Linked DNA regions of Homo sapiens. The protein of the gene in region 1 interacts with the protein of each later gene in a biochemical or structural test. Each region holds a gene or a part of one and is shown in the gene's direction. Other genes may lie near its edges.

What was found.
Region 2: the proteins of TPPP (region 1) and TUBB form a complex in vitro, tested with the Homo sapiens proteins (one study listed by BioGRID).
Region 3: of the proteins of TPPP (region 1) and ROCK1, one has a biochemical effect on the other in vitro, tested with the Homo sapiens proteins (one study listed by BioGRID).

Annotation. Positions count from the first base shown.
Region 1 is NC_000005.10:688,158-701,356, reverse strand, and holds the start of TPPP (tubulin polymerization-promoting protein), read left to right. Parts: upstream 1-8,004; 5' UTR 8,005-8,079; intron 8,080-8,613; exon of another isoform or gene 8,614-8,796; intron 8,797-13,199.
Region 2 is NC_000006.12:30,722,409-30,725,922, forward strand, and holds the end of TUBB (tubulin beta chain), read left to right. Parts: intron 1-128; coding exon 129-237; intron 238-509; coding exon 510-620; intron 621-931; coding exon 932-1,989; 3' UTR 1,990-3,014; downstream 3,015-3,514. UniProt on the Homo sapiens protein: Tubulin is the major constituent of microtubules, a cylinder consisting of laterally associated linear protofilaments composed of alpha- and beta-tubulin heterodimers.
Region 3 is NC_000018.10:21,001,361-21,014,188, reverse strand, and holds part of ROCK1 (rho-associated protein kinase 1), read left to right. Parts: intron 1-5,994; coding exon 5,995-6,130; intron 6,131-7,398; coding exon 7,399-7,490; intron 7,491-7,591; coding exon 7,592-7,838; intron 7,839-12,828. UniProt on the Homo sapiens protein: Protein kinase which is a key regulator of the actin cytoskeleton and cell polarity.

The DNA of each region.
Region 1 (13,199 bases):
TACATTGAACTTCTTGCATCTGTAGGTTAATAGTTTACATCGAATTGGGGAAAAAAAGGTTGTCATTATTTTTCCAAACATCTTTTTTAATGCACTACCCTCATTCCTCATGTTTTCTTCTCTCCTTTGGGGACTTCAATTAAACATATATTAAGCCACTTGAAGTTGTCCCACAGATCACAGATAATTTGGCTTAAATTTTTTTAAATCCTCTTTGCTTTTGGTTTCATTTTGGATAGTTTATATTGCCATGGTTTCACAATGAATAATCTTTTCTTCTTTAATATCTAATCTGCCATTAATCCCATGCAGTGCAGTTCTCATTTTATACGTTCTAGCTTTCACCTCTAGAACAGTGATCCAGAGTGTTGTTATATCTTCCGTGCCTCAAATTAGCTTTTACAATATGTGGAATACAGTTTTGATATTGTTTAATGCCACTGTGCCCGTTCTGCATCAGTTTTAATAGACTAATTTGTCTCCTTATGGCTATTTTCCCACTTGTTTGTGTGCCTAATATTTCTGATTGGATTTCAAAAATTGTTGCCTTCTCTGGTGTTGGATATTTCTGTAGTCCTATAAATATTCCTGAGGATTTCATAGAACTGACAAAAGACATGAATCCACAGGTATATGAAGAGTTGATTTATGACGAGCTGCATAACTAAAAAGAAGAAATCCACACCTAGGTAAACCTTATTCAGGGATGCAGGTAAGATAAAATCTTATTCTGAGATGCAATTATTTAAGAACAGAGTTTTAAAATATTTATAGATGTAAGGGGTAGAAGTGCAGATTTCTTCCATGCATATATTGCATAGTGGTGACATCTGGGCTTTTAGTGTACCCATCGCCTGAATAGTGAACATTGTACTGAAGAAGTAATTTTTCAACTCTCACCCCCTTCCACCCTCCCACCTTTTGGAGTGTCCAGTGTCATCTTATTCCACTCCATACGTCCATGTGTATACATTGTTTAGCTCCCACTTATACTTGAGAACATGTGGTATTTGACTTTTTGTTTCTGAGTTATTTCACTCAGGATAATGGCCTCTATCCATGTTGCTCAAAAGATATGATTTCATTCTTTGTTAACGGACGGGTAGTATTACCTTGTGTATATATGCTACATTTTCTTTAACCAGGCCTCCACTGATGGATGCTTAGGTTCATCCATTTTCTTTTCTGTTGTGAATAGTATTGTGATAAACATAAAGTGCAGGTGGTTTTTGATATAATTAATTCTTTCCCTTTGGGTATATACCGAGTAGTGGGGTTGCTGAACCAAATAGTTGTTCTATTTTTAGTTCTTTGAGAAATCTCCATACTGTTTTCCAGAAAGATTACACTGATTTACATTCCCCCCAACAGTACTTCAGCATTCCCCTTTCTCCACATCTTCACTAAAATCTCTTACTTTTAGACTTTAATAATAGCCATTCTGACTTGTCTAAGATGGTATTGCATTCAGATTTTAATTTGCCTTTCTCTGATAATTGGTGATGTTGAGCATTTTTTTCATGTTTTTTGACCACTTTTGTGTCTTCTTTGTAAAAATGGCTGTTCATATCCTTTGCCCACTTTTTAATGGGCTTATTTGGTTTGAGTTCCTTGTAGATTGTGGATATTAGCCCTTTGTCAGATGCATAGTTTGCAAATATTTTCCCATTCTGCAGGTTGTCTATTTACCCTGTTGATAGTTTCTTTTGCTGTGCAGAAGGTTTCTAGTTTAAGTTCCATTTGTCTATTTTTGTTTTTGTTGCAATTGCTCTTGAGGACTTGTTCATAAATTCTTTGCCTAGGCCAATGTCCAGAAGAATTTTTCCTAAGTTTTCTTCTAGGATTTTTATAGTGTTTGGTCCTATGTTTAGGTCTTCAATCCCTCTTGAGTTAACTTTTGTATATGGTGAGAGGTATTTGTCCAGTTTCATTCTGCTGCATATGCCAATCCACTTTTCCCAGCACCATTTATTGAAAAGGGTGTCATTTCCTCAGTGTCATTTCCTGATTTTTATTGACTTTGTGTCTTTATTTCTGAGTCCTCTATTCTGTTCCATTAATCTAGATGTCTATTTTTGTACTACTACCATGCTGTTTTGGTTACCATACCCTTGTAGTATAATTTGAAGTCAGGTAATGTGATGCCTGAAACTTTGTTCTTCTAGCTTTGGATTGCTTTGGCTAGTTGGGCTCTTTTTGGGTTCCATGTGAATTTTAGGATTTTTTTTCTAATTTGATAGAGATTGTGTTGGGTCTGTAGATTGCTTTGAACAGTATGATAATTTTTAACAATATTGATTCTTCCAATCCATGAGCATGGGATGCTTTTCTGTTTGTGTCATGTATGATTTCTTTCATCAGTGTGTTGTAGTTCTCCTTATAAAGATCTTTCACTTCCTTGGTTAAATATATATCTAGGTAATTTTTTGTAGCTACAATAAATGAGATTGCCTTCCTGATTTGGTTCTTGGCCAGATTGTTATTGGTGTATAAGAATGCTATTGATTTCTGTACATTAATTTTGTGTCCTTAAATGCTACTGAATTTATTTATCAAATCTAAGAGTTTTTTGGTGGAGTCGTAATACGGTTTGGCTGTGTCCGCACCCAAATCTCATCTTGAATTGTAGCTCCCATAATTCCCGTGTGTTGTGGGAGGGACCAGCTAGGAGACAATTGAATCATGGGGGCAGTTTTCACCATCCTGTTCTCATGGGAGTGAATAAGTCTCATGAGACCTGATGGTTTTATAAGGGGAAACCCCTTTCACTTGGCTTTCACCCTCTCTCTTGCCTGCTGCCGTGTATGATCTGCCTTTTGCCGTCCACCATGACTGGGAGGCCTCCCCAGCCGTGTGGAACTGTAAGTCCATGAAACCTCATTTTGTTTATAAATTACCCAGTCTCAGGCATGTCTTTACCAGCAGTGATACAAGTCTTCAGGGTTTTCTATGTAGAATATAATTTCACCAACAGAAAGGGATAGTTTGGGCTCCTTCTTCTCCAATGTGCATTCCCTTTATTTCTTTCTCTTGCCTGATTGCTCTGGCCAGGACTTTCAGTACTGTGTTGAATAAGAGTGGTGAAAGTGGGCATCCATGTCTTATACCAGTTCTTAGAAGGAATACTTTCAACTTTTCCCCCTTAATTCTGATGTTGGCTGTGGATCTGTCATATGAGGCTTTTATTATGTTGATGCATGTTCCTTCTATGCCTCATTTGTTGAGAATTTTTATCATGAAGAGAGGCTGAATTTAATCAAATGCTTTTTCTGCATCTATTTAATGATCATATGGTTTTTATCCTTAATTCTGTTCATGTGATACGTCACATTTATTGATTTGCGTCCCTGGGATAAATCCCACCTGATCAGGGTGTATTATCCTTTTGATGTGCTGTTGGGTTCTATTTTCTGGTATTTCGTTGAGGATTTTTGCATCTATATTCACAGGGATATTGATCTGGAGTTTTCTTTTTTTGTTGCGCCTTTGTCTGGTTTTGGTCCGAGGGTGATACTGGCCTCATAGAATGAGTTAGAGAGATATCCCCCCTCTTCGATTTCTTGGAATAGTTTCAGAAGGATTGGTATTAGTTCTTCATATGTTTGGTAGAATCTGGCTGTGAATCCATCTAGTCCTGGGCTGAGTGCAGGGCATCCACACAACAAGTGAAGCCACTTCTGGCAGTGGGGAAAACAGTTACAGGGACAGAAGCTGACCAGGCTCCTTGTGGTCTGCTTGGAGCCATCTCGGCTTTACAGAGCTCATTGCCCACTGCCTCTGAAAGCCACACCCAGGGCTGCCCTTGCCAGAGGGGTGTGTCCTCTCCACTGCAGACACAAGTTCCTCCCTTCTCTGCGGCCCTCCGCTCTGCAACGCCATCCTCTCTCTGGTCCTCCGTGTCTCTGCCAGGCATGGGCTCCTGTCCACATCTTTTCTTCCCAGCACGCTGTCCTGTTGCCGTGTCCCCGCATCTTTCTTCCCTAACATCGGCTGTGGAACTGAGGTAGCGATGGCTGGCGTATTAAGAATGTGCTCCAAGCAGCTCAGCCTAGGGCTGAACACCCCCCATTTGGCTTCCCCTCCTCATCAGCCCCTGACCTGTGGCAACAGTGAAGCCGCAAGGCTCACCTGCCGTTCTCTGGGTCACAGGTGTGTGATAGGGGGGCCAGAGTCGCTCCCTGGCAGCAAGACCCGGAACCTGCACTTTAATTCCATGTTCCACAGCAATTCCACCCCCAGAATAACCAGATGCAATCACAGCCCAAACACACACAGGCACGTGCACACACACAGGTGCAAACACACACACATGCACACAAAGACACACAGGCCCATGCACACACAGGCACACGCAGGCACACAGACACATGCACACACATGCAAACACACAGACACAGGCACGTGGACATACAGGTGCAAACACACATGCACACACAGAGACACAGGCACACGCAGACACACTCATACACACAGAGACACACAAATAGACACACACACAGCTGAACATACACAGCTGAACACATACCAACATACATACACCGGCATGCATACTCACACATACAGGTGCACATTCACACATAGGAATGCACAAACACACGCATGCATGTGCACACTCTCACACTCTCACACACAGGTGCACACACACATCCCGGCAGACATTTTCCCTAAGCTGCCAAGGACCCATGGGAGCTGCTTCAACACCCCCATGAGGCTTCCCAGGCCCCACACCCAGGCAGGCACGTCGTTACTTCACTGACCACCCCCTCTGACCTCATGCACCTAGGCTGTAGCTTGTCCCCAGCCCAGGGCCCACACAGGAGCTGGTTAGGGTTCTCAAGGGGCCCTGACTGCTCACCTGCTGTGGGACACACCCCTACGGGGCCCAAAGAAGCTGCTCAGCCTATAGGCCGTCAAAGGACATTCAGCTGCCAGGGGTGGGTGGACACCTGACAGGTCCAGCTGCAGGACACCTCAGTGCTGGGACCCGGCATCCTCACACTTGGCCTCGGAGGCCTTTTCATGTCTGCTGCTGTCCGCGTGAGTCCATTGCTCCCCCCGCTCCCCGTGCCTCTGTCTTCAGCATGGGGCCTCCCAATGGACCTGGGCTCCTGTCCTGGTCTCCCACTGCAGACCCAGATGGCCCAGCATCTCCCACCATCCCTTCCACCCAGGGCTTCCAGTGCTACCCACCATGCTGTGTCTGCTCTTCCCAACCTCCACTGTCAGCCTGAACCTCTACCCACAAAACCCAACCCCAAACCCAGGCAGGGGTGGGCGCGGGTGCCAGGCAGCAGGGGCTTGTCCCGGAGAGCTGTCCTCCTCCTATGTGACAGCTGCCTGGCCTGGTGCTCCCAACTGCGGACGCAGAACCTGTGCAGGAAGCCGTGGAAACAGCTACAAGCAGGCAGGTGTCCCGGGGAACGCTCCTGGTCACTGACACGGTAACACAGGTGGAGCTGGGAAAAGCATTGGTGCTGGGGTGGTAGTGACCCCCACCCAAGAAAGTCACATTGACCCGGAACCTCAGAGTAAGACCTTACGTTAAAATAGGATCTTTGTAGATGTAATTCGATTAAAGATCTTGAGATTATCCCAGCTTCTCCTGGCGGCCCTTAAATCCAGTGACAGGTGTCCCGATAAGCAAAGGAAGAGACAGACACACTAACTCGGGGGAGGAGGCCCCGTGAGGACAGGGGCAGAGGTGGAGCCATGCGGCCACCACCCAGGACCGCCTGGAGCCACAGAAGCTGGAAGAGGTGGGAACCTCCGGAGCGCACAGGCCTTGATCTCGGACTTCTGGCCTCCTAAGCCGTAAGAGGAAAGCCCTGTTGTTCAACCCATTTGTAGTGATTTTCTAAGGATCCCCAGGAAACATCTTATAACGGGACACTTGGCGTGGATCACATCATTGGCTGTGAGTCGGTTTTCAGTAATTGCAGGGTTAATGGAGGCTGTCCAGGTCTGGCAGTGGAGCAAGAGCTGGGGGCCAGGAAGGGCCACCGGACGGGCAGCCATGGCCAGGTGAAGAGCCTGGAGTCCCGAATCAGGATCCACCTCTCCCTGCTGAGCAAGATCCTGTGCCCCTGTTTCTGGTGATTTTGTAAGTGCTGACTGAACCGACTGTCGCTGGGAAATAACACACCCGTGACCCCAAGCCAAAGTTTCACCCACAGACAAGGAAACAGACTCCATGAACACGCCGACTCCCGACGGTAGAACCGGGGTGCCCACCCCAGCCCCGGTCACTGTGTGTCCTGCGCAGGGGCCAGGGCAGCCCAAGGCTCAGCTCTGTCCTCCTGCCCAGACCTCGCTCAGCCCCCTGGACGCCGCCCCGCGCCCGCTGCCTCTCCTCTCCTCTCCTCCCAAAGGCTCCAGGACCATGTCTGCCTCTGAAGCCTGACGTTACCTCCCACTGCGATTTTATTGTAAACTCACTGCATTTATGTCAAGAGAGTTTGTACAGGTTTTGGAAAATGCACTGAAGAGTCCCCTTGTGCCTATTAGGACGGTAAGAACACACCAAGGAGAGATTATTTCATTATTTCTTTGATGCTGTTAGTAGGATCTACCCGAGGGGGAGGCACTCCGGGCTCCGCGGGACGAGAAGGCAGCCGAGCCCGCACCCGAGCAGGAGGGAAGCAGGAGCCGCAGCGTGGCCGCCGCACAGCTTCGGGGGTCCCCCGACTTCCCAGCTGCGAGTGTGGAATTTCTCAGGAGAACTAGACAGAAGCCCATCTCTGGGCAGCACTGAGTGGAAGGAGAAACCACAGGAGAGGAGAGGAAGTGTGGGGCGCGGGACCACCGTGGGGTGGGTGGGGGCCAAGCCGCCGGGCTGTGAGGCCTCAGCACCCCCTGCCCAGCACCCAGCACCCCAACTTCCCCTTCTGCCTTTGCGGATTCCAGGGCCTGCTGGACACCTGGTGCAGGGACAGAGCCGGGGCTGGGGGAGGAGCTCAGCTGCACTAGAGTCCAGCTGGAAGAGTCCAGCTGAAAGTCACCAGAGGCACCCCTTCCTCCTGGGGGGCTGCGCCTCGGCCTCCTCCAGGGCAGGTGCCCCTATGCCCCTCAAGTCCCAGCACCCAGCACCACAGAACCGCCCTGTCATCTCGGCCCCGGAACCTTGTGGGGAGCCAACTCCTGCGGAGGGCCGGGCAGCCCCGGGCGGAATGAGCCCCCTCCGCAAAGCCTGTCTGGGGAGCGGGGGAGGGGCGGCAGGTGCCCGGAGAAAGGCGAGATTGGAAGAGCGGCCGGGATGGTGGCGCTGCATACGGGCGACCTGCAGGGAGAACGGAAGCTGAGGCCGGGGTCAGGGGTGCGCGCTCCGCTCCTCCACTCCTGCGTGAAGGGCGGCCCACTCCCGAGCAGCTGCGCTGGGCGCCCGGCACGGACCCGTCTCCCTGCTCAGGTCGATCCCCGGCCGCGCTGCCCCCACCTGGAAGCCCAGTCCCCTGGGTGCGCCCCGCCTTGGGGTCCGAGCACCCTCACAGCCCGGCCCTGCCGCTTCCCTGCACCGTCTGCGGCTCCTTAAAGAACTGGGCGCGGTCGGGGCTCGCCCCGCACCGTCCTCGAGGCCCCGCCGCCAACCCACCCCACCCCAGGAGGCCGCGGCCGCGCTCATCCATCCCCCGCCGCACCGTCAACGCGCGTCCTGCGGGGCGGAGAGATCGGGGTCCGGTCGTCCCCGGGGGGCCCCAGAGCCAGGTGAGGGGCCCCGCCGCCCCCTGCCCAGCGGTTCCCACGACCCGCGGGTCGGCCGCGCCCTGCGCTGAGCGGATACCCGGCGGTCCGCGGGGCCTGAGCAGAGTCGGCCTTGTAAGGCAGAGGTCTCGGTGCGCCCGCGCGTCCCCGGGCCGGGTGGGGCGGCGGGGGCGGGGCTGCCAATGAGCGCGCGGGGCGGGACGCTGGGCGGGCGCCGGACGCTGGGGGCCGGGGGCGGGCCCGGGACCGGGCTGGGCGGGGCTGGGCGGTGCTGGGCGGGACGGGCGGGCGCGGGGCGGCGGCTGGAGAGCTCCGCTGAGCACCGGGTCGCGCGCGGCCGAGTCGCGGAGGCGCCTCCGCTGCAGTCGCTGCGTCTCCAAGGTAAGCGGGCGCGGGGCTCGGTCCCGCGGGCGCGGCGCGGGGGGCACCCGGGGGCGGAGACTGGGCCCGTCAGCCCCAGCAGCCACCTGCGCCGCAGCCCCTGCCCCCCGCGCTCCCCCGAGCCCCCTTCCCGGACCGCCCCGCGCGTCCCTGAGCCCCCGGATTGGGATGCCCGGAGTTCGGCGCTGCGGGCTCGGTGCGAGGACGCGACGGGGAGGCTTTGCAAAGGCCGCGAGCGGGGGTCACCGTCGGCCGCGCCAGGGACAGGTCTGTCACCGTCTCCGGGCCCTGTGCCTGGCGCTTTGGCCTTTCTTCGCGGCCACGGACGCCCCTGCAGCCCTTCCCTCCAGACCCTCCCCAGCTCGGGACTCGAACCGTTTCCCTATTCCCAGGCCTAGGGGGCCGCCGGTGTGAGGCGTGGGAAATTAGGGCGTGGAGGGCTGGAATGAAGTCACTGCCCGCAGCAGGTTTTGAGAGATCCCTGGCCACAGAAACGGCCCATCTCAGGGTCCTGACACCACCGCGTCCTGGCAGGTGGGGCTGTCAGACCGCCCCCCGCAGAGCCTCCAGCTGCCCCGGGTCTTGGCTACTGTCCGCGGGCCTGTGGCGATGGAGAGGCGCTGCCGGGACACCTTCCCGCACCCCTGGGAGCAGCGCCCGAAGATCTGAGGAGCCCTTTATTCTGCGGTTTCGGTTACGTAAACGGAGCCGAGGGAGGTGAGAAGCCTGTCCCTCCCGGGCAGTGGCGGGGCTGCTGTTTTGATAAGGGTTTTGGGGGGGCTGTTGTCTTGATGGGGGTTTGGGGGGCTGCTGTTTTGATAGGGGTTGGGAGGCTGCTATTTTGATACGGGGTTGGGGGCTGCTGTTTTGATAGGGGTTTGGGGGGCTGCTGTTTTGATAGGGGGTTGGAGGGCTGCTGTTTTGATAGGGTTGGGGGACTGCTGTTTTGATAGGGGGTTGGGAGCTGCAGTTTTGATAGGGGTTTGGGGGCTGCTGTTTTGATAGGGGGTTGGGAGGCTGCTGTTTTGATAGGTGGTTGGGAGGCTACTGTTTTGATAGGGGGTTGGGGGGCTGCTGTTTTGATAGGGGTTGGGGGCTGCTGTTTTGATAGGTGGTTGGGGGCTGCTGTTTTGATGGGGTCTGGGGGGCTGCTGTTTTGATGTGGGGTTGGGAGGCTGCTGTCTTGATGGGGGCTTAGGGGGGCTGCTGTTTTGATAGGGGGTTGGGGGCTGCTGTTTTGATAGGGGTTGGGAGGCTGCTGTTTTGATAGGGGTTGGGGGGCTGCTGTTTTGATGGGGTCTGGGGGCTGCTGTTTTGATGAGGGGTTGGGGGCTGCTGTTTTGATACGGGTTGGGGGGGCTGTTGTCTTGATGGGGGTTTGGGGGGCTGCTGTTTTGATGGGGGTTTAGGGGGCTGCTGTTTTGATGGGGGTTGAGGGCTGCTGTTTTGATGGGGGTTGAGGGCTGCTGTTTTGATGAGGGTTGGGGGCTGTTTTGATGGGTATTTGGGGGCTGCTGTTTTGATGGGGGTTGGGGGCTGCTGTTTTGATGGGGGTTGGGGGCTATTGTTTTGATGGGGTTTGGGGGGCTGCTGTTTTGATGGGTATTTGGGGGCTGCTGTTTTGATGGGGGTTGGGGGCTGCTGTTTTGATGGGGTTTGGGGGCTGCTGTTTTGATGGGGGTTGGGGGCTATTGTTTTGATGGGGGTTGGGGGGCTGCTGTTTTGATGGGGTGTTGCGTTCCCTCTCAGTGTCACCGCTGATCCACCTGGCATGTTTATTGGCTCTTCTGCTTGCAGGGCCCCTGGGGGACCGATAGAGGACTGGGCCCCTCCGCCCACCCCGGCCACCCCTCCCCGCCTGACTTCTCAGGGGGAGAGGTCTCCCCCCACGCCCAGCCAGCCCCTGCCCCTGGGAGGTGACCCAGCTCCCTGTGGCCTGGGACTAGGAGATGGGGCTGGACCAAGGCCGGGAAGGGGCAGGAAGTGGAGGGGAGTGAGGCAGCTGCAGCCTGATGCCGCCGCCTTGAACTGGGCTCTCGCGCCTGTCAGCCGCTCGGTGCCAGCGCCTCCCCACCACGTGATCCTCGGAGGGCCTGTGGGGGAGGGGCGGGCTCCCGGAGCGGCTGCAGAAGGCGAGCTCCAGGAGGGTGTGTGCGTTTTCCCGGGAGGGGTCTGCAGCTTTCATGGTTTCTAAACGGATCTCTGATTCAGAAAGGCGCCGGCATGAACTCGCTTTGCATCTTCACAAAACATGAAGTCATGGGGATTGGACCGCGTGTGCGTGGAGGAAGCTCCGCTGGTCACTGGCTGCGTTTTAATCTTACAGCTGCGGTTGGTCTATCTTCCCGAATTCCCTGAAGTTGCAATAAATGTTTTAGCGATTATACGAGGTTATAAATGCTCGTTGTGGAAATGAGCATAGAATGCTCACAGAAATGGTCAACAGGGGCTTCCTTTTGACCCCCTACCCTAATTTGCAAGCCTCACACTGGCAGTGGCTGCCCTAGGCCTGGGAATCGGTAAACAGGGTTCGTGCACCGGGCTGGGCAGGGCCCGGAGGGAGGGGCCGCAGGGGGCTTCCGTGGGCACAAAGGCCAAAGCGCCACACGCAGGGCTCAGGAGAACTTCCTGAAGAAAATTAGGATCACCCATCGCAGATGGAGACTGGGGAGCTCTCTGGAGAGTCAGGCAGTCTGTTCCCTCCCAGGCCTGTGGGAGCCACCCCCTGCAGAGGACGCAGAGAATTAAAAGCTTCCTCGGGAGAGGCCGTGCCAGCAGAGAGCCGAGTCTATTTATAGCTGTTGGTGAGACAGGGGGAGTGTGTGAGAGGGATGCCATCTGGGGCTCTTGGGGCCCCCAGGCCAGTGCTGGTCAGCGCCCTGCAGTACCTGGCCCAGCCTGGTGCCCTCAGGCAGAAGCGCCTTCGGGAAAACACTCTGGGTGAGGAGAGTCGCTCAATGCCTCCGCCTGGGCTGGGGGAGCCAGAAGGCTATGCCCAGGAGGGTTGTGGCCGGGTGTCTAGTCCATCTGAGCCCACAAACCCTCAGCCAGGAGCCAGGATCAGGCAGCAGAATCTACACACGCCTAGTTCCTACTGCTCGAGCAAAAGGTGTTTCCTGGGAAGGAAGGGGTGGAGCTGCCTGGGTCAGGCCCAGCCACATCTGGGGCTCAGGCCTTGTCCCCAGCATCCACGAGCCAAACCCCAAGCTGCCCTGCGTGGATCCTCCTCCTAGGGAGACCAGCTTCTTCTTGGTGTGTGTGTGTTTGGGGTTGCCACAGGGCCATAACCCACTGCATCCCCCTGATAAGATCTTCCACCCAGGGCAGCCCCCACCCAGGGCAGCCCCCACCCAGTTGATCCCCCACCCAGATGATCCTCCACCCAGATGATCCCCCACCCAGATGATCCCCCACCCAGATGATCTGCCACCTGGATGATCCCCCACCGGGGACATCCCCCACCCAGGGCAGCCCCCACTCAGATGATCCCCCACCCGGGGCAGCCCCCACCCAGATGATCTCTCACACAGGGCTTCCCTCCTAGGGCATCTGCAACAGGCTTTCCCCCTAAGGTGACATCCCCCTCCCAGGACATCCACATCCCAGAGCCACCCCCTCCCAGAGCCACCCCCTAGGCCATTCCTTCACCAAGGCTCCACCACCCAGGACAACCCCCACAAAGATTCCCCACCCAGAGCATCCTCCCCACATGGCATCTCCACCCAGGGTATTCCCCCACCCAGGGCATGTTCCCCACATGGCATCCCACGTTTGACTTCTTGGCATGATAAAAGGTGCCTGCCCATGTGGGCTCCATGAGATCCCCCAGGGCGCATGGCATCACAGACCACATTTCCCAGATCCTATAACCTGTAACCCCAACCTGCTCGTTTGTTCACAAATGTCCAACGTGGCCTCCGCCCAGGGAGTGCCACCAACAGCCGCACCTGCCAGGCGACTTCACACAGCTGCTGTCCCCCTCTGGCCATCAGTCATCAGTCAATGGGGCCAGGAGCAGTGAGCACCGTGTATGGGGTATGGAGGTGGCTTCAAACCCAGGCCCTGGTCCAAGGGCCCTCATGTCTGACACAGGCGAGCTCCCAGCACCCTCTGCCTTGTCAGGAGTATGTGACATGCCTTCCTGGCCCACAGAGGTGGGTGAAGTGTGCGTACCTCAGCGTGCCCATGGCTGCCACTCACTGTTCACCCACTCACACTGGATCCCCGCCCAGAAACACACCAGGCCAGTCCCACCCCACTCAGAAGTGCTGCTGGTGCCTCAGGGCCAGGGAGCCATGTCCAGGCCCCAGCCAGCCCCGGGGACCTGACCCAGCCCCTCCCCCTGAGCCCAGGGCACCGCTGCACAGCCACCTGCATCTCCCACCCATGGCATCTCGCAGGTGACCTGGCCACCGTGGCTGCATCTGGGGCGTCCACCCTCTCCTGCGCACACCGGCCCCCGCTTCTCCTAAGGCTGCCCAAGGGCCGGTTTTCTCTGCCCCTCGGCGGGGTGGCACCTCTGCCTTCTCAGTGCCTGAGGAGCCTGGGCCATGGACAGAGCCACTGGGGTGAAGCTCATCTCAGCCTCACCTCCCACCAGGCTTGTTCCTGCCACCTTCGTCAGTGCCCACGTGTCCCCAGGCCGCCTGCTGGGAGGGCCCCACCTGGCACCTGGCACAGTCCACCTGCAGTTCTAGTGCCAGCCGTTCTGGGCCGCCTCTCTTCGTGTTCCGGGAGTGGGATGGGGTCTTACTCACCGTCCGTTTTCCCGTCGAAGCTGCAATTCCTGAGCACTGTGCTTTGGCTTTGCCTGTTTTTAACCTTTAACCAGAAGCCACGTGGTGGGCACACTGCTGTGCTGGCTAACGTGGATCAATACTGTGCGCGAGTGGTCCGTCCACACTGCGTCGAGGAGCCCCAGGTGCTCGTGCTCAGCGCCGCCCACACTCCCACGGGGATGCCCGCTGTCCCTGAGACCACCATACTGTCAGCAGGTGCATGTCCACGCGGTTCCCCTTTCTTGGCAACTAGGGATGAAGCTGTCGTGGGCATTCCTGGGATGTTCTTTGGGGCATGTGGTCATGAGTCTCTTGGGTCAATCTGGAAGTGGAGCCGTTGAG
Region 2 (3,514 bases), on another chromosome or scaffold:
CTCCAGCCTGGTGACAGAGCGAGACTCCGTCTCAAAAAAAATTAAGAAAAAGATGAAATAAAATGGTAGTTGGGGACATAGTTGGCTGGGACTTGACCTGTTGTGGTCTCGTTGCTCCCCCTCGGCAGTTCTGGGAGGTGATCAGTGATGAACATGGCATCGACCCCACCGGCACCTACCACGGGGACAGCGACCTGCAGCTGGACCGCATCTCTGTGTACTACAATGAAGCCACAGGTAAGGGCAGGAGCCCGGGCAGCTCAGGTTCCCTTCCCTGTCTCCCACTTATCTGGGATCTCTTTCCATTTCTGGGCACGCCTTATCCCCTTTGGGTGAATCTGTCATTTTGTCCCTTTCGTGAACCACCGTCGGGGCCAAAGACGTCTGCTGCCACCTGGTGGCGGGACCTGGAATGACAAGTCTCTGATCCCTGCTGTCTCCCATTTCCAGTATATCTATAAACCTTCCCTTCTGCCAGATTTCACAGCTCTTAACTTTATTCTCTGTAGGTGGCAAATATGTTCCTCGTGCCATCCTGGTGGATCTAGAACCTGGGACCATGGACTCTGTTCGCTCAGGTCCTTTTGGCCAGATCTTTAGACCAGACAACTTTGTATTTGGTGAGTTATACAGATGATATTAGCAGATGATATACCATCGTGTTCAACTTATTTGGGTGCAAGGACACAGCAAAAGTTAGGAGATGATTGTTGTATTGGAGTGCTAATACAGAAATGTGTTCTGAAATCTAACGGAGGGTAGAGGTAGTGCCTACTATTGCTGGTAAATTATGGGGCAGTAGGGGGAGAATATATCACAGTGAAGGAGAAAGAAGATACATCCGAGGGAATTATTTGAAAAGTTGAAAGATGGAAACATCATGTATCTTCCATACCCTGTTAATTGAGCTTTTCTCCTGACTGCATTCCAGGTCAGTCTGGGGCAGGTAACAACTGGGCCAAAGGCCACTACACAGAGGGCGCCGAGCTGGTTGATTCTGTCCTGGATGTGGTACGGAAGGAGGCAGAGAGCTGTGACTGCCTGCAGGGCTTCCAGCTGACCCACTCACTGGGCGGGGGCACAGGCTCTGGAATGGGCACTCTCCTTATCAGCAAGATCCGAGAAGAATACCCTGATCGCATCATGAATACCTTCAGTGTGGTGCCTTCACCCAAAGTGTCTGACACCGTGGTCGAGCCCTACAATGCCACCCTCTCCGTCCATCAGTTGGTAGAGAATACTGATGAGACCTATTGCATTGACAACGAGGCCCTCTATGATATCTGCTTCCGCACTCTGAAGCTGACCACACCAACCTACGGGGATCTGAACCACCTTGTCTCAGCCACCATGAGTGGTGTCACCACCTGCCTCCGTTTCCCTGGCCAGCTCAATGCTGACCTCCGCAAGTTGGCAGTCAACATGGTCCCCTTCCCACGTCTCCATTTCTTTATGCCTGGCTTTGCCCCTCTCACCAGCCGTGGAAGCCAGCAGTATCGAGCTCTCACAGTGCCGGAACTCACCCAGCAGGTCTTCGATGCCAAGAACATGATGGCTGCCTGTGACCCCCGCCACGGCCGATACCTCACCGTGGCTGCTGTCTTCCGTGGTCGGATGTCCATGAAGGAGGTCGATGAGCAGATGCTTAACGTGCAGAACAAGAACAGCAGCTACTTTGTGGAATGGATCCCCAACAATGTCAAGACAGCCGTCTGTGACATCCCACCTCGTGGCCTCAAGATGGCAGTCACCTTCATTGGCAATAGCACAGCCATCCAGGAGCTCTTCAAGCGCATCTCGGAGCAGTTCACTGCCATGTTCCGCCGGAAGGCCTTCCTCCACTGGTACACAGGCGAGGGCATGGACGAGATGGAGTTCACCGAGGCTGAGAGCAACATGAACGACCTCGTCTCTGAGTATCAGCAGTACCAGGATGCCACCGCAGAAGAGGAGGAGGATTTCGGTGAGGAGGCCGAAGAGGAGGCCTAAGGCAGAGCCCCCATCACCTCAGGCTTCTCAGTTCCCTTAGCCGTCTTACTCAACTGCCCCTTTCCTCTCCCTCAGAATTTGTGTTTGCTGCCTCTATCTTGTTTTTTGTTTTTTCTTCTGGGGGGGGTCTAGAACAGTGCCTGGCACATAGTAGGCGCTCAATAAATACTTGTTTGTTGAATGTCTCCTCTCTCTTTCCACTCTGGGAAACCTAGGTTTCTGCCATTCTGGGTGACCCTGTATTTCTTTCTGGTGCCCATTCCATTTGTCCAGTTAATACTTCCTCTTAAAAATCTCCAAGAAGCTGGGTCTCCAGATCCCATTTAGAACCAACCAGGTGCTGAAAACACATGTAGATAATGGCCATCATCCTAAGCCCAAAGTAGAAAATGGTAGAAGGTAGTGGGTAGAAGTCACTATATAAGGAAGGGGATGGGATTTTCCATTCTAAAAGTTTTGGAGAGGGAAATCCAGGCTATTAAAGTCACTAAATTTCTAAGTATGTCCATTTCCCATCTCAGCTTCAAGGGAGGTGTCAGCAGTATTATCTCCACTTTCAATCTCCCTCCAAGCTCTACTCTGGAGGAGTCTGTCCCACTCTGTCAAGTGGAATCCTTCCCTTTCCAACTCTACCTCCCTCACTCAGCTCCTTTCCCCTGATCAGAGAAAGGGATCAAGGGGGTTGGGAGGGGGGAAAGAGACCAGCCTTGGTCCCTAAGCCTCCAGAAACGTCTTCTTAATCCCCACCTTTTCTTACTCCCAAAAAAGAATGAACACCCCTGACTCTGGAGTGGTGTATACTGCCACATCAGTGTTTGAGTCAGTCCCCAGAGGAGAGGGGAACCCTCCTCCATCTTTTTTGCAACATCTCATTTCTTCCTTTTGCTGTTGCTTCCCCCCTCACACACTTGGTTTTGTTCTATCCTACATTTGAGATTTCTATTTTATGTTGAACTTGCTGCTTTTTTTCATATTGAAAAGATGACATCGCCCCAAGAGCCAAAAATAAATGGGAATTGAAAAAAGCTGCGAGATGTGTGCTTATTTAGGGAAACACGGCTGGCTGATGGAGGCATGGGGCCTGAGTTCAGTTGCACTGCTCTCCTTAAATTGACACTTAATATTGAGTCCCTGTCCTACGGATTCAACCAACTGGATATTGGGAAAAGAGTTGTACTGGACATGTATAGACTTCTCATTATTCCCTAAACAATAATAGTATAAATTATTTACATAATATTTGCATTAGATTAGGTATTACAAGTAACGTAGAGATGATTTGAAGTACACAGGTTATATGCAAGTACTACATTTTATATGAGGGACTTGGGTGTCTGCCGATTTGGTATCTCAGGGAGGTACTGGTAAGGACACTGACTGCTTTATAGACCCTCACATCATTGTTTCTGGTACCCAAACTGCTCTGAGCACCAGTCAGTCTTTACTGTAGTCTCTGACAGCTCACTACAGCCTTGATGTCCTGGGCTCAAACAATCCATCTCATTCTCCCAAGCAGCTGGGACTG
Region 3 (12,828 bases), on another chromosome or scaffold:
CTTAGCCTAAAGACCAAAAAAGGAGCAGGCTAGCAAGTCAGAAAACTTACACTATCACTGCTCTTTTCAGCCAAACACCACAGAAAAACGGTAGCCTCATTCTTTTTTTTTTTTTTTTTTTTTGAGACAGAGTCTTGCTCTTTTTCCCAGGCTGGAGTGCAGTGGCGCGATCTCTGCTCACTGCAAGCTCCGCCTCCCGGGTTCACGCTATTCTCCTGCCTCAGCCTCCCGAGTAGCTGGGACCACAGGCGCCCGCCACCATGCCTGGCTAATTTTTTATATATTTTTTTTAGTAGAGATGGGGTTTCACTGTATTAGCCAGGATTGTCTCAATCTCCTGACCTTGATCCACCCGCCTTGGCCTCCCAAAGTGCTGGGATTACAGGCCTGAGCCACCGCGCCCAGCCAACTGTAGCCCCATTCTTAACAGCAAAGGCTGAGTGGGAAGTCTAGACTTCCATCTCCACTATGCTGTAGCACACCCCAACTTCCAATTAGAATAGTGTCAGAGAAGGTCCAGTAAAGGAATTTTCATCTCCTGTGGGCAGTAACAAACCTTCTTTCTCTCCCCAGACAGCGTAGCAGTGACCATGTGGGGAATCTACACTTACACTTCCAGCTGGCAGTAAGGGGGTGCCCCTCCCACTGCCTTCTGGGTTGGTATCAAAGAGACATGGTAGGGAGTCAGAACTTTCCACTGAAAATAACAAGCTCCCCTCCACAATGCAGTGTCATCTGTGGGGGCCACATAAGGAGCAGCCATGGTGCACTCAATGGAGGCCTGGTAGAGTGCCAGAACTCCTGCTTCCACCCAGCAGTGATGAGGATCTGCTCCCCTCCCTACCTGAGGTGTCAGTAGAGGCTGAGTGGAAAACCTGGACTTCTGCAAACTCCACCTGGCAGAAAAGAGGCAGCACCCCCTTAGTTTCACCAGAACAGTGTCAGAGGAGACCTTCTAAAAGAGATTTTAAATAAGATCCAGAATGTTGTAAGATGATGTCCAGGTTTGAATAGCAAACTGCTCATCATAATCAGAACTAGGAAAATTTTAACTGGAATTAGAAACAATAATAAACTAATACCAATGCTGAGATGACACAGATGTTAGAGTTATCTGACAAGTATTTAAAGGAATCACCATAAATATGTTTCAGTGAGCAACTGTAAACATACAAACAAGCAAAAAAATAGTCTCAGAAAGACATAGACAATATAAAATAGAGCCAACCAAAAATTACAATAACTGAAATAAAAGTCTCAATAGATGGTGTCAGCAGCAGAGTGAACAATGCAGAGGAGCGAATCAGAGACCTTCAACAAAGAAAAATAGAAATTATGCAGTCTGAACAACAGAGAGAAAATGATCAGAAAAAAAGTGACAGAGCCTCTGGGACCTGTAGAACTATAACAATAAAATTCTAACATTTGTGTCACTCGAATTACTAAAGGAGAGGAGAAAGGGCGTGGGAAGAAATGACGACAGAAAATTCAACAAATTTGACAAAAGACCTGAACTGACAAAAGACATGAACTACCAAGAAGCTTAGCAAACCACAAAAAGTGTAAACCCAAAGATATCCACACCAAGACACAATAGTCAGATTTCTGAAAATTAATGACAAAAAAGAAATCTTAAATACAGGACACACCTTACCTAGAAAGGAAACAACAGTGTAAGTGACAGCTGATTTCTTATCAGAAACCATGGAGGCCAGGAGGAAGTGGCATGACTTTTTCAGGTGCTAAAAAAACAAAAAAACAAACCTATCAACCTAGAATTCTGTGTTCAATTAAAACATCCTTCTCAAATGAAAAAGAAAATGACAACATTCTCAGATGAGGAAAAACTAAGATAATGTGTCACCAGCACACCTTCCCTAAAGGAATTGCAAAAGAAAATTCTCTAAACAGAAAGGAAATGATAAAAGAAGGAATCTTGGCCAGGTAGGGTGGTTCACACCTGTAATCCCAACACTTTGGGAGGCTGAGGCGAGCAGATCACTTGATGCCAGAAGTTTAAGACCAGCCTGGCCAACATGGCAAAACCCCATCTTTACTAAAAATACAAAAAAAATTAGCCAAGTGTGGTAGCGTGTACTTGTAATCCTAGCTACTCAGGAGGCTGAGGCTGAGGCTAGAGAACTGCTTGAACCTGGGAGGTGGAGGTTGGAGTGAGCCAAGCGCACCACTGCACTCCAGCCTGGGTGACACAGCAAGACTCTGTCTCCAAAAGAAAAAGGAGGAATTTTGAATTACCAGGAATAAAGAAACAGTAAAAGATGGGTAAATACATTTTTTTCTCCTCTTTATTTTTTATAGTAGGCAGTTGAAGCAGAAATTATATTGTCTAATATGATTCTCTGTGTATGAGAAAAAATATTTTAGACATTATAAACAGAGAGTAATGGGTCATAAAGAAAGGTAAAGTTTTTAGGTCAAGTGTGGTGGCTCATGTCTGTAATCCCAGCACTTTGGGAGGCCAAGGCCAGCGGATTGCTTGAGCCCAGGAGTTCAAGACCAGCCTGAGCAACAGGGTGAAACCCTGTCTCTACAAAAAATACAAAAATTAGCCAGGTGTGGTAGTGCACGCCTGTAGTCCCAGCTACTAGGGAGGCAGAGGTGGGAGGATCGCTTGAGTCCAGGAAGTTGAGGCTGCAGTGAGCCATAAGCATACCACTGTACTCCAGCCTGGGTGACAGAGTGAGACCCTTTCTCAAAAATAAATAAGATAAAAATTAAAAGAAGAAAGGGAAGATGTTTATACTTTACTCAAACTGGTAAGATGCCAATACCAGTGGAGTGTACTATATATTAAGCTATGCATATACAATGTAATATCTAGGGCAGCCACTGAAAAGGCCTTACAAGGAGATACATTCAAAAACACCATAGTTAAATCAAAAGGAATGCTAAAATAATGTTCAGGTAACCCACAGAAAGACAGGAAAGAAAATGTAGAAATAACAGAGATCAAACAAAAAAACAAAAACGGCAGACTTAACCCTAACATACTACCAATAATGACATTAAATGGAAATTAAATGGAATACCAATCAAAAGAGGTGGTAGGGGTAGATTTTTTTAAATCCCCCATTTATATATCTGTCAGAAACTCTTCAAATATAACAATATAGGCAAGTTGAACATCGGAAGATGTGAAGAGATAACATAACAAATATTAAAAAGAAAGCAGCATATTGGCAATGTTAATACCAATTAAAGTAGACTTCAGAGCAAAGAAAATTACCATGAACATAGAGGAATATTACATAATGATAAGAGTCAATCCACCAAAAATAAATAAAAATCCTAACTGTACACCAAACAACAGAGCTACAAAGTATGTGAAGCAAAAGTTGATAAGACTGGAAGGTTAAATAGACCAATCCATAATTATTGTTGGAGACTTCAGCACCCGTAAGAATCACCAAACATAGGAGAACTCAACTACACTGTCAGCTGTCAGAATTTGTTCAACATTTACAGAACCCTCTGCTTAACAGCACAATATGCCTTCTTTTCAAGTGCTTAAGGAACACACACCAAGGTAGACCACATCCCAAGCTATAAAACAAACACATTTGAAAGCACTGAAATCATACAGTTTCCTGACCAAAATGTACAGATGAGAATAACAGAAAAATCTGCAAACACATGGAAAGCAAACAATAAACTTCTAAATAACCCAGAGGTCAAAGAAGAAGTCTCAGTGAAAAAAATACATTGGAATGTTAATTATGTCTCATAAAACTGTTATGGCTCTTTATCTTTACAAAATATTTGAACAATGAAGTGAAAATACATCATCAAAATTTGTGAGATGCTGTTAACATGGTGATGAAGGTTAATTTATAGCACTAAATGCTTACCTTAGAAAAGAGGAAAAGTCTAAAATCAATAATTTAAACTCCTACTTCTGGAAACTAGAATAAGAAGAGTGAAATAAACCCAAAACAAGCAAAAGGAAGGACAAGTAACGATAAGAGCAGAGAACAAGGCAGTTAAAAGCAGAAAAACAATAGAGAAAATCAGTGAAACAAAAAGCTGTGTGAAAAGATCAACAAAATTAACAAACCTCTAGCAAGACTGATAAAGGAAAAAGAGAGGACACAAATTACCAGTATGAGGAATGAAATAGGGCATATACTATAGACCATATAGGTATCAAAAGAATCATAAGGAAATCCTATGAACAGTTCTAAACACAATTAAGACATGTAGATGAAAGGGACTAACTTCTCAAAAATCAAACTATCACAACTCATACAGTGTGAAATAGGTAATTTCAGTAGCCCTATATAAGTGTTAAGGAAAGCGAATCCATACTTTTTAAACTTTTTAGATATATGGATGAAAATAAACCTATGAAAAGAGGTTCACATAATTAGTCATTTGGGAAGTGCAAATTAAAACTATCATGAAATATTACTCCATAACCATGAAAAAAAGTAAGTTTTAAAATTATGTCAATAGCAAACTGGCAAGGATATGGAGAAACTAGATCACTTGGACATTGCAGATGGGGATATAAAATGGTACAGACATTCTGGAAAACCAATTGGCTGTGTTCCTGAAAAACTAAACATGTGCCTACTATGTGACCTAGCAATTGTATTCTTGGGCATGTATTCCAGAAAAATGAAAATGTATATTCTCACAAAAACCTGTATACTAATGTTTATAACAGCTCTATTTGTAATAGCCAAAAACTGAAAACAATCAAAATGTCCTACAGTAGGTGAATGGTTGAACAAACTTCGGTACATTTGTACCATGGAATACTCAGCCACAAGAAGGAATAAACTGTAGATACATACAATACAGAGATGGATTTTAAGGTCTTTATGTTGAGTTAAAAAAAAAAAAAACCTGTCTTGGCCAGGCGCGGTGACTCACGCCTGTAATCCCAGCACTTTGGGAGGCTGAGGCGGGCGGATCACGAGGTCAGGAAATCGAGACCATCCTGGCCAACATGGTGAAACCCCATCTCTATTAAAAATACAAAAAAAAAAAAAAAAAAAAGCCTGTCTCAAAAAGTCATATATTGCATGGTTCCATTTATATAACATTCTCAAAAAGACAAAATTATAGAAATGGAGAACCATTAGTTGCCAGGAGTATGGGTGGTGGGAGGACGGGGATGGGTGTGGCTATAACTAGTGACTGGAAAGAAATTGTTGTGATGACCAGTTCTGTATCTTCGTTGTGGTGGTGCTTACATGAACCTACATATGTGATAAAATGAGAGAATCATACACTCCTTATACCAGTGAGAATTTTCTGATTTTGTTATTGTACTATTGTTATATATAATGTCTCTACTGGGGGAAGCTGAGTGGAAGGGCACTTGGGACCTCTCTGTACTATCTTTGCAACTTTCTTTGAATGTATAATTATCTAAAAATTAACTAAAAGTTAGAATGATAAACTCTTAGAATCAGAAAGACCTTGAATGATTTATGTCCAATTTCTGCTTAAAGATGAGAAAGCCCAGAAACACTGTAAAACAGGTTTCCTAATGTGGAGTCTTAAAAAGTGAAGCATCAAAAACAAGATTTACTGATAGTGGTAACTCAGAAAGGTACATTTTTAAGTTGTGAAAATTTGGGTATTTTAGGCTGGGCACAGTAGCTCATGCCTGTTATCCCAGTACTTTGGGAGGCTGAGGCAGGCGGATCACCTGAGGTCAAGAGTTCAAAACCAGCCTGGCCAACATGGCAAAAGCCGTCTCTACCAAAAATAGAAAAATTAGCTGGACGCAGTGGTGCGTCCCTGTAGTCCCAGCTACAGAAGACAGATTCCCACTGTCTTCTTAAAAGGCAAGCTACTTAGAAAGTTGTATTAGGAGATACTATTTGCGTTTGAAACAGAACATTCATCTTAAGTGTTTGTCTTTTTTTTTTTCTTGTTTTTTGTTTTTAAGAACAAAATACTCACTTGAATGAATGACCAGAGTATTAATCACAGTGGTAACTTTTATCATTATAATTCCAGGGAAATCAAAGAAGAAATCTAGAATCTACAGTGTCTCAGATTGAGAAGGAGAAAATGTTGCTACAGCATAGAATTAATGAGTACCAAAGAAAAGCTGAACAGGAAAATGAGAAGAGAAGAAATGTAGAAAATGAAGGTAAATTGTCACTACTTTTGAAAAATGATAGAATTTCTAACACTGTCATGAGGTTGTCTTTAATTTAGTGTCCATGATACATACATGAAGCTACAATCCTAAGACACTTTATAAGCTAAATAACCCAGGTCTCAGGTTAAATTTATAACATATTAAATAGTAATTAAATTAAATATTAAATTACATATTAAAGTAAATAGTAAGTAGCATTTAACTAGAGTAGTGATTGTCATCATGGTGTGCATACTGGAATCTCCTGGGAAGCTTTAAAGAGTACTGATGCCTAAATCCCAGCGATTCTAATTTAATTGGTCTAGATATGTGGCCTGAGTATCATTATTCTTTACAAGCCCCCTAGGTACTTCTAACAAGCAGCTGCGTCTAAGAACTTCTAAACCAGAATTTCTTGTGTTTTAATGCTTGTGTTACAAATATATTTAAAATACCTTTCTACTCCCATTGATGCAGTAATTTCACTTCCATAAGTTATTTCACGTACATACTCCTACTGCAAACTGATATATACACAAGGCTATTCATTGTAGCATTGTTTAAAATGACAAAAAAAATGCAGTCAATGCTGTATATGAAACATAATGTAATACATATATGAAACATAAAGGTAATGAATGCTGTAATAAATTTTAGTACATCTATATGGTAGAATACTATGTGGCTTATAAAAAATAATAAATCATCTCCTTAAATACGGTTATAAAACAGTCTCTAAGACAGATCTTTAAGTGACAGAAACGGATTGCTTGTGTTTAAAACAAGAGTACTTGTCTATATATGCTTAAATTAAATATATATTAGGGAGGAGAGCCAGTTAAGGGAGACTCAGAAGGGGCAAAAATGACTAAATGGAGAAAGGAGGACTTATTCTATACTATCTACCATTTGGTACCTTTTAAATTTTGTATTTTTATTAAGATATTGAATTATCAAGCAATTGAACTCTTGAAAAATAAATAATATTAAAACTAGCTTTATAAGTATACTATCAGTGATCTTATAAAGGGAATAAAGGAGTTTGAGATTTACAACAGTAAGAAGAAATCTTTTTGCACTCTGTATTAGAAGATAATGTTCTACTTTTTAATGAATTTAAAATGCAGGTACTTCCAAATTGGAATTTGGCTTTGGGAGTGGACCTAATGTAGCTGACTATTATGGCCTAAGACTAAATGTCTTTTTTTAAAAAAGGATTTATATGTTTCCCCTATGAAAATGTTGTAATTTCTATATATTATTCTTTCATTTTCTAGTTTCTACATTAAAGGATCAGTTGGAAGACTTAAAGAAAGTCAGTCAGAATTCACAGCTTGCTAATGAGAAGCTGTCCCAGTTACAAAAGCAGGTAAGTGTTTCAAATGAGGTTCCTTTTTAAAAAAATTGTAGATAATTAAATTATATCGTACTTTGGTCAGAAACCTATTTTTTTGCTTTCTTTTTAAATAGCTAGAAGAAGCCAATGACTTACTTAGGACAGAATCGGACACAGCTGTAAGATTGAGGAAGAGTCACACAGAGATGAGCAAGTCAATTAGTCAGTTAGAGTCCCTGAACAGAGAGTTGCAAGAGAGAAATCGAATTTTAGAGAATTCTAAGTCACAAACAGACAAAGATTATTACCAGCTGCAAGCTATATTAGAAGCTGAACGAAGAGACAGAGGTCATGATTCTGAGATGATTGGAGACCTTCAAGGTAATATTTTTTCTTATTGTGGTAAAATATACGTAACATGAAATTTATTATAACATTTTAACCATTTTTATATATACAGTTCAGTGGGATTAAATGCAGTTCACAATGTATGCAACCATCATCATATAAGTGGAATCATACAGTGTTTGTCCTTTTGCGTCTGGCTTTTTTCACTTAGCACAATGTCTTCAAGGTTTATCCATGTTGTGTGTGTCAGATTTTCCTTCCTTTTTAGGGCTCAGTAATATTCCATGGTATGTGTATACCACATTTTGTTCATCCACTCATCTATCAATGGAAGGAATATTTTATAATTTTTATTTTTAATTGTTAAAAATATATAACATAAAATTTACCATCTTGACCATTTTTAAGTCTAAGTTAATATATTTATGATCATATTACCCTCATAAAGAAAATGACTTTGGTGAAACCAGAAATGGTTGCATTCTTTTTTATTGTTTACGTTTTTTTGAGATAGGAACTTGCTCTGTTGCACAGGCTGGAGTGCAGCGGCATGATCACAGCTCACTGCAGCCTTGAACTCCTGAGGTCAAGCAATTCTCCCACCTCAACCTCCTGAGTAGCTGGGACTACAGGTGCATGCCACCATGCCCAGCTAATTTTTGCATTTTTTGTAGAGACGGGGTTTCACCATTTTGCCCAGGCTGGTCTCAAACTCCTGAGCTCAAGCGATCCGCCCACCTCGACCTCCCAAAGTGCTGGCATTATGGGTGTGAGACACCACACCAGGCCAGCATTCTTTCTCTTTTAGAATAATGCCCACATTTGTATCACATTGTAATTTCTTCACCCTCACAGGTACTCCTGCAGGGTATGTAATGTGGATATTTTTCAGTTTTACAGACAAATTAACCAAAAACTTCATTTAAAAACTTGCCTAATTCATAAAGGTTTTACTCAAAGTGAGACTAATCCAGGCAAAGAGGATTATCACTATTAAAACCTAGGAATTCCTCATGCATCGTTGGTAGTAATAGAAAGTCAGTTGCAGAAATAAAATCCCATTACACATTAAAAGTTAGATACTTGGGAATGTTTGAACTGGAGATATTGACAGTCTTTGTGAATCTAAGAGGCAGAAGATTGAGTATAACTAAGTGAATAAATGAACAGTTTTTAAATAGTAATAAAATTCAGTTTGTTTTCAAAAAGATTCCTGGCTTTACCTACTCACATATTTTTCTATTTTCTATTCCTGTTAGCAGCAGCATCCATACTACCTAATCAAAACAAATATGCATAGAAGTTGCCAGATGTCTCAGGAAAAAATTGGAGGGAGGAGTTCTTTTTAACCTTAGTTAGAGATGGGAACATAGTTTCAGGTCCCTTGGGGCTTGATGATTAGCTATAATTCAGTGGAGAGAGGTCAGGGTCAGTTTTTGTGACTAAGGAAACAGAAAATACAATCTCCTGTTGGTTCTTAGCTGAGGAGTGTTGTGCAATCATATTTCTCAGGGACCAGGCTTAAAATAGATCTGATTATAACTAAGAAAGTAACCACTTTATATGTAATAGGAAAGTCACAGACTTCCTTAAATTGTTTTCCTAGGCCTTTTTATACAGCTTATTAGCTGTTTGAAAGTCTCTTCATCTCCCTTCTTTATCTGTAAACCAAGGAGATAAGAATAGGTTACCTCTATAAATCCTTCCAATTCTAAAATTCTTATAAGTTTGTGATCTGTGTTTGACTGAGCTTTAAGCTCCTTGCTTCAGAGGCAGAGATCATCCATGTACTATCAACAGTGGTTTTTAACTGAATCTATTTTTTAGATATCAGTAAAAGTTAAGGAAAATTTATAGCATGATTTATTGTTAGTTTATTCTTTTTCAGAGTTTAATTTGGAACTTAAACGTGAATAAAAGCTCACATACACTAAAATAATGCACACAACTTATGTGAGTTTCAACATACATATAAAAGTGCATTGTGGGTTTTTAAAAAAATCACAATGCTTATATTAGTCTTTTCTGGTCTTTAAGAACTTTCAGGTCTCTCAAGTATAAATTTAGTTTGGGATGGTGGGCTTCTGGCAGAGTCTTGATTGTTATTCATTAATTGAATGTCCTCCATATATGATCTCTGTTGCATAGTCTTTTTTATTTTTTACTTTTTATAACCTTTTAAAGTATAAAAACCATTCTTAGCTTGACATCTGTACAGAAACAGGCTGCAGCCCTGATGTTTGCCAGTACCTGGACTAGTGCAACAGTAAGGCTGCAATTGATTATAGGGAAAGTTTCCAAAAGTTCAGGCTATAGAGGCTTAATGAAAGTGATCAAAATGTTATGGAGGATTGAAATTTTAACTGAATTGATAAGCTTTCATCTAGTAAGTTTATCTCTGATTCTTCAGATTGAAAGGCAAAAATCAATTTTTTTAAATTAACCATTTTTAAAAGTCTTTTTCTGTTTTTTTTAATTGTTTGCTTGGAACCAGAAGTGCTTCAGATTTTGGATTTTGGGTGGTTTGTGAGAATATTTGCATTATGTATACTTACCAGTTGAGTATCCCAAATCTGAAATCCTTGAATGTCATGTCAGTGCTCAAAAAGTTTCAGAATTTGGAGCATTTTGGATTTTTGGATTTTCCAATTAAGGATGCCTAACCTGTACTATAGTGACCTCTTGTGTACTCATTAAGCTTCAAAAACCTTCATTTGGTAGCCAGTCGTGTTTCATTTTGTACCTCCACCTCCCCTTCCCAATCCTCTGACACTGAATTATTTTGAAGCTCATATCAGGCACCACATTGTCCTTTTGTAAATACATCCTAATTTGTAAATATTTCATTATCTTAAAGATAGGGACTCTTTTTTAAAAAGACAAACATAACTACAATGCCATTATCAAAGGTAGAAAATAGGTGACAGTTATATAATATTATAAAATATCTAATTAGTGCTTAAGTTCCTCTAGTAGTCTCATAATTTGTTCTTATTGCATTTATTTTGCTTGAATTTGGATCCAAAGTTTGGACATTGCATTTCATTAATACGTCCCTTAAGTTTATTTTAATCTGTATTTTCCTCCTCCCTTTTGTGTTCTTTGTAATCTCTTTTTGCTGTTGTTTTCGGTTAAAGAAACCATGTTTTTTTCGTCCTGTGAGTGGCTCCTGTTCAGAATTTTACTGATTTCATCTGCTGGTATCATTTAGCATGTTGCTCTGTCCGCCGTAGTACTTTAAACTAGACGTTAGATCTAGAGATGTGATCTACTTCGGTAGGACTTTGTCAAGAATACTTGTAAGTAGTATTTAGGTACCAGGAGACACATAAACATAAAATCTGGGCTGGGTGCAGTGGCTCACACCTGTAAAACCAACACTTTGGGAGGCTGAGGTGGGTGGATCTCTTGAGCCCAGGAGTTTGAGGCCAGCCTGAACAACATGACGAAACCTCATCTCTACAAAAAATAAAAAATTAGCGAGGTATGGTGGCATGCACCTGTAGTCCTAGCTACTTAGGAGGCTCAGGTGGAGGATTGCTTGAGCCCAGGAGATGGAGGTTGCAGTGAGCTGAAATCGTGCCACTGTACTTCAGCCTGGGCAACAGAACAAGACCCTGTCTCAAAAACAACAACAAACAAACGAATGAAAAAACATAAAGTCTGGCTGTATCTTTTTGTGGTGTTAGTAGCCATTGATGATCATTGCCTAGGTCCTTTGTTTCTTTAGGAATTTGCAGTGGTGATCATCTATTTTTATCCATCTTCCTTCATTTGTTAATTGGAATACTACTCTAGAGATGAACATTTCCTCATCAATTATATAGTAGTTACTTTGAGGTACAGCTTATAAAAGAAAGTCAGGTTAAATACTTAATTCTTTGTCAGTTTTTGGAACAGTGAGTTATTTCCCAGGCATCCTCCAAAGATGATTAGTGAATTTTTAAAATATATTTGTGAACTCATGAATTTTAATATATTTAATATATGTTAGCCCTTTGCATTATTCTTAATGATGCTCACATGAAGTTTAGTAGGAATTCTTTAAGTTTAGACACTACCCTAGTAGTTTTAGATCACATCCTTGCTTTTTGATATGCATAGATTTTCCAGAATTATTTTTTGTCCCAGACCTGAAATCACCCATTTGCCTAGGAACTCCGGTTCCTTTTGTAGCATATGACATTCGGGGTCTATAACCTGAATTCTATGGGTGCTCACTACTGTTGGGTTGGTCAATGTTTGTAGGTGATTTTAATGGACAGAGGTAGGAAACAATTTTTTTTGTAATTAATAATTTCTTATTGTGATCAGGAACTATTAAAAGATTTCTACTTTGGGATTTCTACTTTTAATGATTTTTTTTCTGGCTTAGTTTATAAATGATTTTTGCATTTCACTGTTACATGGGCATTTGAAAATTGTCGATTTTTGTATGAAACATCTTTTTGGGTGAAAAGTTGATCCGTTTTCTAATGTAATCCATCAGTTTTCTAAGATTGCATTTATTCTTTGTCCCTTTGTTCTGTCAAATTTTAAAATGTGTTTTAAAAGTTTTCACTATCATTGTGGGTTTTTTCTCATAGCCTCCCATGTATTTCTTTTCTTTTTTTTTTTTTGAGACGGAGCCTCACTCTGTCACCCAGGCTACAGTGCAGTGGCATGATCTCGGCTCATTGCAACCTCTGCCTCCCAGGTTCAAGTGGTTCTCCTGCCTCAGCCTCCCAAGTAGCTGGGACTACAGGCATGCGCCACCATGCCCAGCTAATTTTTGTATTTTTAGTAGAGACAGGGTTTCACCATGTTGGCCAGGATGTCTTGATCTCTTGACCTCGTGATCTGCCTGCCTCAGCCTCCCAAAGTGCTGGGATTACAGGCGTGAGCCACCATGCCTGGCAGCCTCCCTTGTATTTCTAACAGCTTTTGCTGTCTATATTTTTTAATTAAGGTGAAATTCTTGTAACAAAAAGCTAACCATTTAAAAATATACAATTCAACAGCATTTACTACATTCAAAATGTTC